Linked DNA regions of Homo sapiens: region 1 is reported to be linked to region 2. The links are microRNA targets in miRTarBase. Many come from high-throughput screens and were not tested one by one. Region 2 holds a microRNA gene; the other region holds the end of a gene's coding sequence.
Evidence for each region. Region 2 holds the annotated microRNA hsa-miR-5010-5p (AGGGGGAUGGCAGAGCAAAAUU, at 2,386-2,407, opposite strand). A microRNA usually pairs through its seed, bases 2 to 8, with sites in the 3' UTR of a target mRNA and lowers its output. Matches are read on the target gene's strand: a 7mer-m8 pairs with bases 2 to 8, a 7mer-A1 pairs with bases 2 to 7 and ends in A, and an 8mer does both.

Region 1: miRTarBase lists VPS37D as a target of hsa-miR-5010-5p. Seed matches in the 3' UTR shown: 7mer-A1 at 3,907-3,913 and 7mer-A1 at 3,539-3,545.

The regions. Positions count from the first base shown.
Region 1 is chr7:73,670,937-73,675,351 of GRCh38, reverse strand. VPS37D (VPS37D subunit of ESCRT-I) reads right to left here. Exons shown (of 4, transcript NM_001077621.2): 4 at 3,242-4,338. The coding sequence ends at 3,976. Among named protein-coding and RNA genes, the nearest start is that of VPS37D, 5.3 kb to the right of the region's middle.
Region 2 is chr17:42,512,615-42,516,614 of GRCh38, reverse strand. It overlaps MIR5010 (microRNA 5010), which reads right to left and starts at 2,427; the gene lies at 2,308-2,427. ATP6V0A1 (ATPase H+ transporting V0 subunit a1) reads right to left here. Exons shown (of 22, transcript NM_001130021.3): 20 at 2,637-2,754; 21 at 2,155-2,326. RefSeq lists an enhancer at 1-8.

The DNA of each region.
Region 1 (4,415 bases), not on the chromosome of region 2:
TTAGCTCAGTGAGCCTTGATTGGTTAGGAAAAAGAAAAAGCAATTTAATGTTACTATGTTTCATATTTGGAAACCAAGATGGGGAAGGTTAGAAAAATGCAGAAGCTAGTGATTCACAAACAAGGAGGTGTACATAATAGACTTTCTTGAGGAACAGGGAGCTCTGTTTTTATTAAAAGGGGTGGGAGTTTTATTTGGAGACTTCTTTGGTTTTGTTTTGTAAAAGCAAAATGGTATCTAATAGGTAGGACCTTTTTCATGAGCCCCCTGATGCAGACCCTCAAGTTTGTTTTCTCTCACAGATCACAGCCAGGAACATTCCTGGGGCCCCCTGAATCTAGAAGCAGCAAGTTCAAGAAGGTTTTAGGCAAAAGGAAGGGCCCAGAGTGCTGCACCTTCCAGAACATTCCAGAACCTTCCTGAACATTCCATGTACCTTCAAGCAAAAGGGGTTAATGATTTTTCAAACCATCCAACTGTAAGCCTTTCCATGGCCCACCCAGAACTGGGCCCACTCCACTCTGGTGGTGTCCATCCTCACCTGCCTCCGATCATTTTCAGGCTGGAGCTGAACACAGAGGGGTCTCACTCCCTGCCCCTCTAAAGAAGAATCAGCTCTGTGCAAGACAAGGTGTGTGGGAGGCCTTCTGAAGGACCCCATCTGGTTCCCATGGTAACACTTCTTCCTAGTCCCTCTCTTGTCCATGTCTCAACTTTCTCTGCTTCTTACCTACCCTGAGGAGGGGAGGCTCAACCTGGTAGCTGCTGCCTTCTAAAGGCTGCTCCCCAATTCATGATAGTGGAGAAAGGTCCAGACCTGCCCAACCTTTGCCCCTTTTTACCTTTTGGTTGCAAACTCTACACCATGTCAATCATGAAGGAGAGCCAAAAAAAAAAAAAAAAAAGTGGGGACCGGGCACTGTGGCTTACACCTGTGATCCCAGCACTTTGGGAGGCTGAGGCGGGCGGATCACGAGGTCAGGAGATGGAGACCATCCTGGCTAACATGGTGAAACCCCGTCTCTACTAAAAATACAAAAATAATTATAATTAGCCAGGCATGGTGGCAGGCGCCTGTAGTCCCAGCTACTCAGGAGGCTGAGGCAGGAGAATGGCATGGACCCAGGAGGTGGAGCCTGCAGTGAGCCGAGATCACGCCACTGCACTCCAGCCTGGGCGACACAGCGAGACTCCGTCTCAAAAAAAAAAAAAAAAAAAAAAAAGCCAGGTGCGGTGGCTCACGCCTGTAATCCCAGCACTTTGGGAGGCCAAGGCGGGCAGATCACCTGAGGTCAGGAGTTTGAGACCAGCCTGACCAACATGGAGAAACCCCGTCTCTACTAAAAATACAAAATTAGCCGGGCTTGGTGACACATGCCTGTAATACCAGCTACTCGGGAGTGTGAGGCAGGAGAATGGCTTAAACGTGGGAGGCAGAGGTTCCAGTGAGCCGAGATCGCTCCATTGCACTCCAGCCTGGGTGAGAAAAGCGAAACTCCATCTCAAAAAAAAACAAAAAGCAAAAAAAAACAAAAAACAGCAGGGAACCATGCATTTTCAGAAAAATGGGACAAAGGTACTTTTTCGTGGGAATGGACTGCTTTGCACCCTGGAAGCTTGGACCAGGAATGGGAAGCCAGGGCAGGAGGGGCCCATCCTGCCCCAGACTGTGCTGAGAAGGAGAGCATGGGGGAGAGGTCTTCCAAGGCTGCTCAGTCTTTGGTCATATCAGCAGGAACTCAGCGGTTCTGGTGTCCCTTGGCCTCCAGCAGCTGAAGTGCCAGCAGTGAAGAGAGTAGAACCAAGACCAAGGTGGGATGGAGGTTCTAAAGTGGGCACTCTCAGTGCTTAAACTGTGCCTGTACTAGGGGGACACTCTGACTGTCTAGGCCTGAGGCTCTAAAGCTCCCACAGCCCAATCCCTCTAGCTACAGCCGACATCTCTAAAAAGCCCATCAAGCAGTTGCTGCCCCCACATCGTCAGGGATGGGGACCATCCACCTCACAGAACACCCCTAACTTTTTTTTTGGGTGGGGGGACGGAGTTTCACTTTTGTCGCCCAGGCTGGAGTGCAGTGGCGTGATCTTGGCCCACTGCAACCTCTGCCTCCCGGGTTCAAGCAATTCTCCTGCCTCAGCCTCCTGAGTAGCTGGGATTACAAGTCCCTACCACCATGCGTGGCTAATTTTTGTATTTTTAGTAGAGATGAGTTTTCGCCATGTTGGCCAGGCTGGTCTTGAACTGCTGACCTCAGGTGATCCACCCACCTTGGCCTCCCAAAGTGCTGGGATTACAGGCATGAGCCACCGCTCCTGGCCTCATCCCTAATTTAAGAGCCTCAAACGGAGCCAAAATCCGGCCCCTTACGGTTTCCACCAATTGGTCTTAGCTTTGACCTGTGGTTCCCACCCACTGGTCTTGGCTTTAACCTCTGGTTCTAGGTGACCCAACCCTTTAGAGATTCAAAGGCTGAACATCACACACAAACACATTTGAAACAGATCCCTCAACTGTTCCTCACTGACTGTTCTTTCTCATCCTTGTTTCTCCAAAGGTGCCATTTGGGGCGGGTGGGGGGAGGGGACCCTCTTCCAGTAAAAAACTTAAGTGAAAAGCAAAGCTACCCCAACACCTTCCTCTTTCCAGATAGTTATGTCCTTATTAACATGGACCAACACCATATTAGCTTTGTAGGCTTCCACAACACTGTGACTGTCCCCTTTTGTTTGCAAGAACTTCCACGCCTCCCTGCCAAACTGCATCTCATTGGACTTGACCTAAGCTGACCCAGGGTATATCCCACCTCCTTGTTCCACAATCATCAGCCAAACTGGCACCTAGCATTCCCCCTGGCTGAGGACAGATGCCATCAGTCCTGCAAAATGCCCTCCATCACTCCGTGGGGACCGTCATTTGGCAGGCCAGAGAAGACCAGGTACCATCCCGATTGGGCTTATGGGCAACCCAGGAAAAGATGCGTACAGGTGAGGCAATTGGAGAACCAAGATGGAGCAGTGAGCGCTTCTGACTGGAAATGCCGGGAAGTTAAGATTTAGGAAAGGCTCTCAACGGGTTGGTAATCAGAGAAGGCTTCATGGAAGAGGCAGCGGCGGTGTTGGACCCGGACAGCTGGGCTTTGCATGGGCAGAAAGGAGGGGAGAGCATCTCAAAAGTAGGAAGTGGAAGCACAGGAGCTGAGCTGTGGAGGCTGCAACAGCAGAGAGGAGTCGGGCAGCATCGTCATCCTCATCATCACATTTATTGACGGCCCCTAAGAGGCGGGGCTGGGGACAGAACGTACAAAGACAAGGACCTGCCCTCAAAAAGCTTCCATTCTAAGGAGACAGGGACAGAAAAATACAGAATGGTCTTTCCTGGGTATGGCCCACTCTCACCTGCACAGGTCAGAAGCCCCTGGCCTACCTTGCCCCAGGGTCTGGAGCATGTGTGGACACGTAGTAGCCCCAGGGCCATGGTGTCCCTGGCCCCACAGCCGAGGCCTGATCACCTGGCTCCTAGGCTGTGGGCCCCAGAATTTGGGGGAAAGGTAGGCTCAGGACATGATGTAAAACACTCCTGGCGGCCTTGGCGTTGTGCGAGCCCAGTGGAGTGGTGGGGTGCGACAGGTCCCCTTGGCAAGGCCCCTAGGGGACCCAGGCATCTTCCCAGGCCCCTGTAGTTGAGTCAAGTTCTTTAACGGGGCTGGTCCATCACCCTAGAGGCCCCGGGGCACGGAAACAAAAAAGGCAGGGTGTCTTCAGCGCCAGAGGCATAAAGCCCTGCCCACCCACCCCCAGCCCCCTCTCGGGCCTCTTCCAGGGGACCCTCCTCCCCAGCTCAGCCTCCAGGGCCAGGGCCTGCCTGAGGCCAGGGGGAGGGGCCTGCCCCTCCCCCCACCCAGGCAGTGGGGGAGGAGGAGGAGCCACGCATCAAGTTTGTCTAGGCCCCCCAACTGGGGGGCCGCACCGTGGATCCTACCGGTGGGGGGGCTCTGGCTGCGAGGGCCGAGGGCTCAGCAGGGGGGCCGGGCCGAGGGGGCACCCGGGGGAGCCCTTCAGTGGGGGCACTGGGCGGGAGTCCAAGGGGGGCAGGCTCCGGGGCACTGCTGGTGGCCCCCGGGCGGCCCCAGTGGGCAGGACAGCTGCAGCCGGGAAGGATTTGGGGGGATCAGCAGCCGAGGTGGGGGCCGGCTGGGCAGAACGCTCCCGACGCCGCAGCAGCTCCTGCAGCTTCTCTGCCTGCGTCCGCCTCAGGTGGGCCAGGGCGCGGCCACGCTGGAAGGCAGGCAGGAAGGCCTCCAGGCTTTGCTCCCCGAGCAGCAGCTGCTCCATCTGCTCCTGGGCCGGGAGGGAAGGGAAGGCTTGGGAGAGGCACGACCACAGACTGGGGACTGGTCCTCACTCCTTCCCACCCT
Region 2 (4,000 bases):
GTGAGGTGGTCACTGTTCCCTCAAACCCAGGGCTCAAGAGACAGGAGTGAAAAGAAAAGAAAGGAGGCCAAGGGGCAAGAAAAAGTGAGTCCTCAGAGGTTCTCGTGCACTGAGGAGGGCTGAGGAAGTGTGCTTGCGGGGGTCGGCTGATAAGCTTAGAACAGGGAGGCCAGCCAGATGAGCTGGGTGGGGAGGAGGGAGGCCAGGAGGGAGAGAGCCAGGCCAGAGGAAGCCAGGTCTACTGACGCAGCAGGGCTTTTGAAGAAGAGTGCACCCTAGCCACGTCTTGCCCTTCCATGCCTCACTCTCCGCCCATCATTCAGAAAAACCCACAGCTGAATCTTTGAGGAGGCTCAGGGGTCACCCAGCCATGAGAATAATCAAAGATAAAGGGGAGTGGGGAATGAGTTTCTCAGGTTCAGATGCTGGATTTTCTTCAGGTTTTGAGAACGAAGAGAGACATTCATAGTCCTCTTCTGGCCTTGAGATCATGAACACCACAGAGCATCCCATCCAGGGGCCTCTAAGGCACACCAGTGAGTCAGACCCCTATGCTTGTAAAACAGGAGAAGTGTGTGAGTGCTCCTCTGGGGAGAGGGGCCAGAACTTCCAGAGACATTGGGGTTTTGAGACCCCCAAAAAGAGAATCACAACATAAAGGAGAAAATAGAGACCCAAAGAAGTGGAGTCTGAGGTGGAACAGCCACAGAAAATACAGACTGCCCCAGTTTTTAGTATAAGCATATCCCATGCACATTTGGGAAATACTCATACTAAAAAAATTATTTGTTGTTTATGTGAAATACACCCTGTATTTTTATTTTTTGAGACCGAGTTTCACTCTTGTTGCCCAGGCTGGAGTACAATGGCGCGATCTTGGCTCAATGCAACCTCCACTTCCTGGGTTCAAGCGATTCTCCTGCCTCAGCCTCCCAAGTAGCTGAGATTCCAGGCATGCACCACCATGCCCGGCTAATGTTTTTGTATTTTTAGTAGAGACAGCGTTTCTCCATGTTGGTCAGGCTGGTCTCGAACTCCCCACCTCAGGTGATCCACCCGCCTCGGCCTCCCAAAGTGCTGGGATTACAGGAGTGAACCACCGTGCCTGGCCCCCAACCCCTCCCCTATTTTTTTTTTTTTTTTTTTGAGACAGAGTCTCGCTCTGTTGCCCAGGCTGGAGTGCAGTGGCACAATCTCAGCTCACTGCAACCCCTGCCTCCTGGGTTTAAGAGATTCTTTCCTGCCTCAGCCTCCTGAGTAGCTGGGATTACAGGCACGTGCCACCACACCTGGCTAATTTTTGTATATTTAGTAGAGACGGGGTTTTACCATGTTGGCCAGGCTGGTCTCGAATTCCTGACCTCAGGTGATTCACCTGCCTTAGCCTCCCAAAGTGCTAGGATTACAGGCATGAGCCACCGTGCCCAGCCAAACTGTACTTTTATGTGCTACATCTGGCAACGCTGGTTTGAGGTGGTCACAGCCCAGACCACACCCCCGCTCTCCCAGTCCCAGAGGCTGAACTCATGCTCTCTCCACACACAGCCATTAAGAGTCACAAGCTTCATTAAAGAAAACAAACAGAACCACCCCAAACCTGCCCATGTGAAGAAGCTGCGTGAGTGTACCGACCTCCACCCTATAGAGCCAGGAATCCCTCCGGTCCACAATGGAGCTGCCAGGGGTCCAACTCAAAGACCCCTGGCACAATGACAGAACAAAGAGGATAAAGCTGGGGTGCAGCGTGTTCTAGCCTTTCCTGCACTTAACATACATTCCAGAGCTGCTTCCACTGTTCTGAAGACAGAAGAGTTACACATCAGAGAGAAAACCAGAAACCCTAAGACCCCAGCAGCCCCTTTAAGCCAAAATCAGGAGCACTGGGGACAGCTAAAGGCAGGGAGCGGGACCTGACACCACTCACCAGGGACATCTCCCTAGAGCCTAGGGAAGGCTGAGCTGTGCTTTTCTGTGACCATTTTCCGAAACTCTGTGGCAATGCCGGTGCTGGGGTGTCCTGAGGTGAAGCTAGTGCAGGGCCAGCTCATCTTTCCTGCACAGAGCTGCAGGGCTGTGTGTGGGAGAAAAGCTGCCCTCTCACCGCAGCTAAGGACACATCCACCCCCATGCCCGCCCTGCCCCACTGCCCCTCACCAGTGTAAGCGCAGTGCGTGGAGAAAGGCCGAGAGGCCCTCCATGATCAGGAGGATGGCCACGGTCAGGGTGGCAAAGGCAGTGAAGAAGAAGAACAGCACCAAACCTCCCGCCAAGCTCTTCACGCTCAGGCCGATGTGGATCACCATGGTCCAAAGCACCTCAGACAGCTCTGGGGAATGGGAGACACAAAATCCAGTGCAGTTTGGCAAGAGGCAGCTGTAGGCCATGAATTTTGCTCTGCCATCCCCCTGCTCTAGGGTTCCCTGGATCCTGGCTTCCCACTGCCTTAGTGGGACCACCATGCAGAGCTAACCTGGCACAAGTGCTGAGCCTCCTGTCTGTACTCATTCTCCTTGGGTTCAGGAACCTGAATAATTCCAGAACCTTCATGTAATTTCCATTTGACTTAAGCCCCCCAACTGACAGTGCGCCCACAGAGGGGGAAACTAGAGTTCCGGAGCCCGGAGAGAGGTACTCACGCGCATGAGCGAGGCTGAGGGCCCAGAGCCGCAAGTAGGAGGCAGTGTTGGAGATGCAGCCCAGGCAGTACTCGATGGTGTGGATGGCCTGGTGGACCATGGTGTCCCCAAAGTCAAACTGTCGTGGGAGGAAACCAGAGAGAAGATATAAGGCTAGGAGGGGAACGTGCAGGCATTCTGAGTTGTGGCTACTTGGCGCTTTGAACCTGGGCCAGGGCAGGGGACTGCACTTCCCATGGATGGCACCTCAACTCTGGAGGGGCCAGAAGCACCCAGTGTTGAGCTCAGGTGGTGATTTCGGCAATGCCTTCCCCAAAAATCCTGCCTGACTTAGCCCTCACCTGGGACACCTCCATTCCCCTCAATACATTACATTTTAATTAACTACATCTTAATAAGATTCTTTTCAACACATTTGTTCTTCTCCCTCTGGGGCTCTGTGCTCAAGAGAGGAGTGTGTGCTGAGTTGACGGCACTCTGTTGAGAAAGTGACTGTCTGGGTCTGGGACCCTAAGGACCTGCAGGAGGGCAGGAAGGGATTTTCCCCAGAGTGCGCTTCAGGAGACAGACTCTCAACCCGGACACTGTCCTGAGAAGACTAGGCCTCTATGGCCACTTTACTTATTCTTTTTACAGCCTTTTGGGAGCAAGATAACCTTCTTTTTCTTTTGTGACTTCTAAAGAGATTACACGGTGAATTTTTTTTTCCCTACATGATTTCACCACCATGCACAGGGAAATCCTGACAAAGTTTACAAATTTCCACATGGGTTAAGGCCAAACAGCATATCTGTTTGGGTTAAGACTAAATAGCATATCTCCAGTTTCTTGTTTGTTTTCGTTTTCCTCAAGCTCCCTTTGTCCCAGTTTTCCTTTCAATACCAAGAATTATTTCCAGAATAAAGGAATGGGCTGGAACAAGCTCTTGGGAGTGAACTTTCAGGTTTGCTCCAAGCACAGTCAGGGGTGAATGTGGGCTTCTGAATTTGGTATATTCTGGAAGCCCCAGGTACTTTCCCTGGGCCTCTCTGTCAAGCTGACCAAAGACCAGGAGGCGCTCCCTTATGGGGCTTCCCCCCGCAGAGCCCAGACCAGAATCTTCTGAGCTTTCAGACACTCCTGAGGGCTCAGTGGCCTCCCCATCGGCCCCTGCCCTCAGGTCAGGGTCTATTTTTCACCGCAGTTCCTTTCAAAACCCACGTGATTCCACTCCCAAAGGACACCAGAAATGCCTTGGGAAATCACTGAGAACATGGGGATGGGAGAAAGTGGCTTGGCTGGTAAAGCCACAACAGCCCAGGCCACAGGGGTGCAGCCAGCGTGGAGGGGGCTGGCTCCACCATGCCATCTCTGGGCGAACGTCT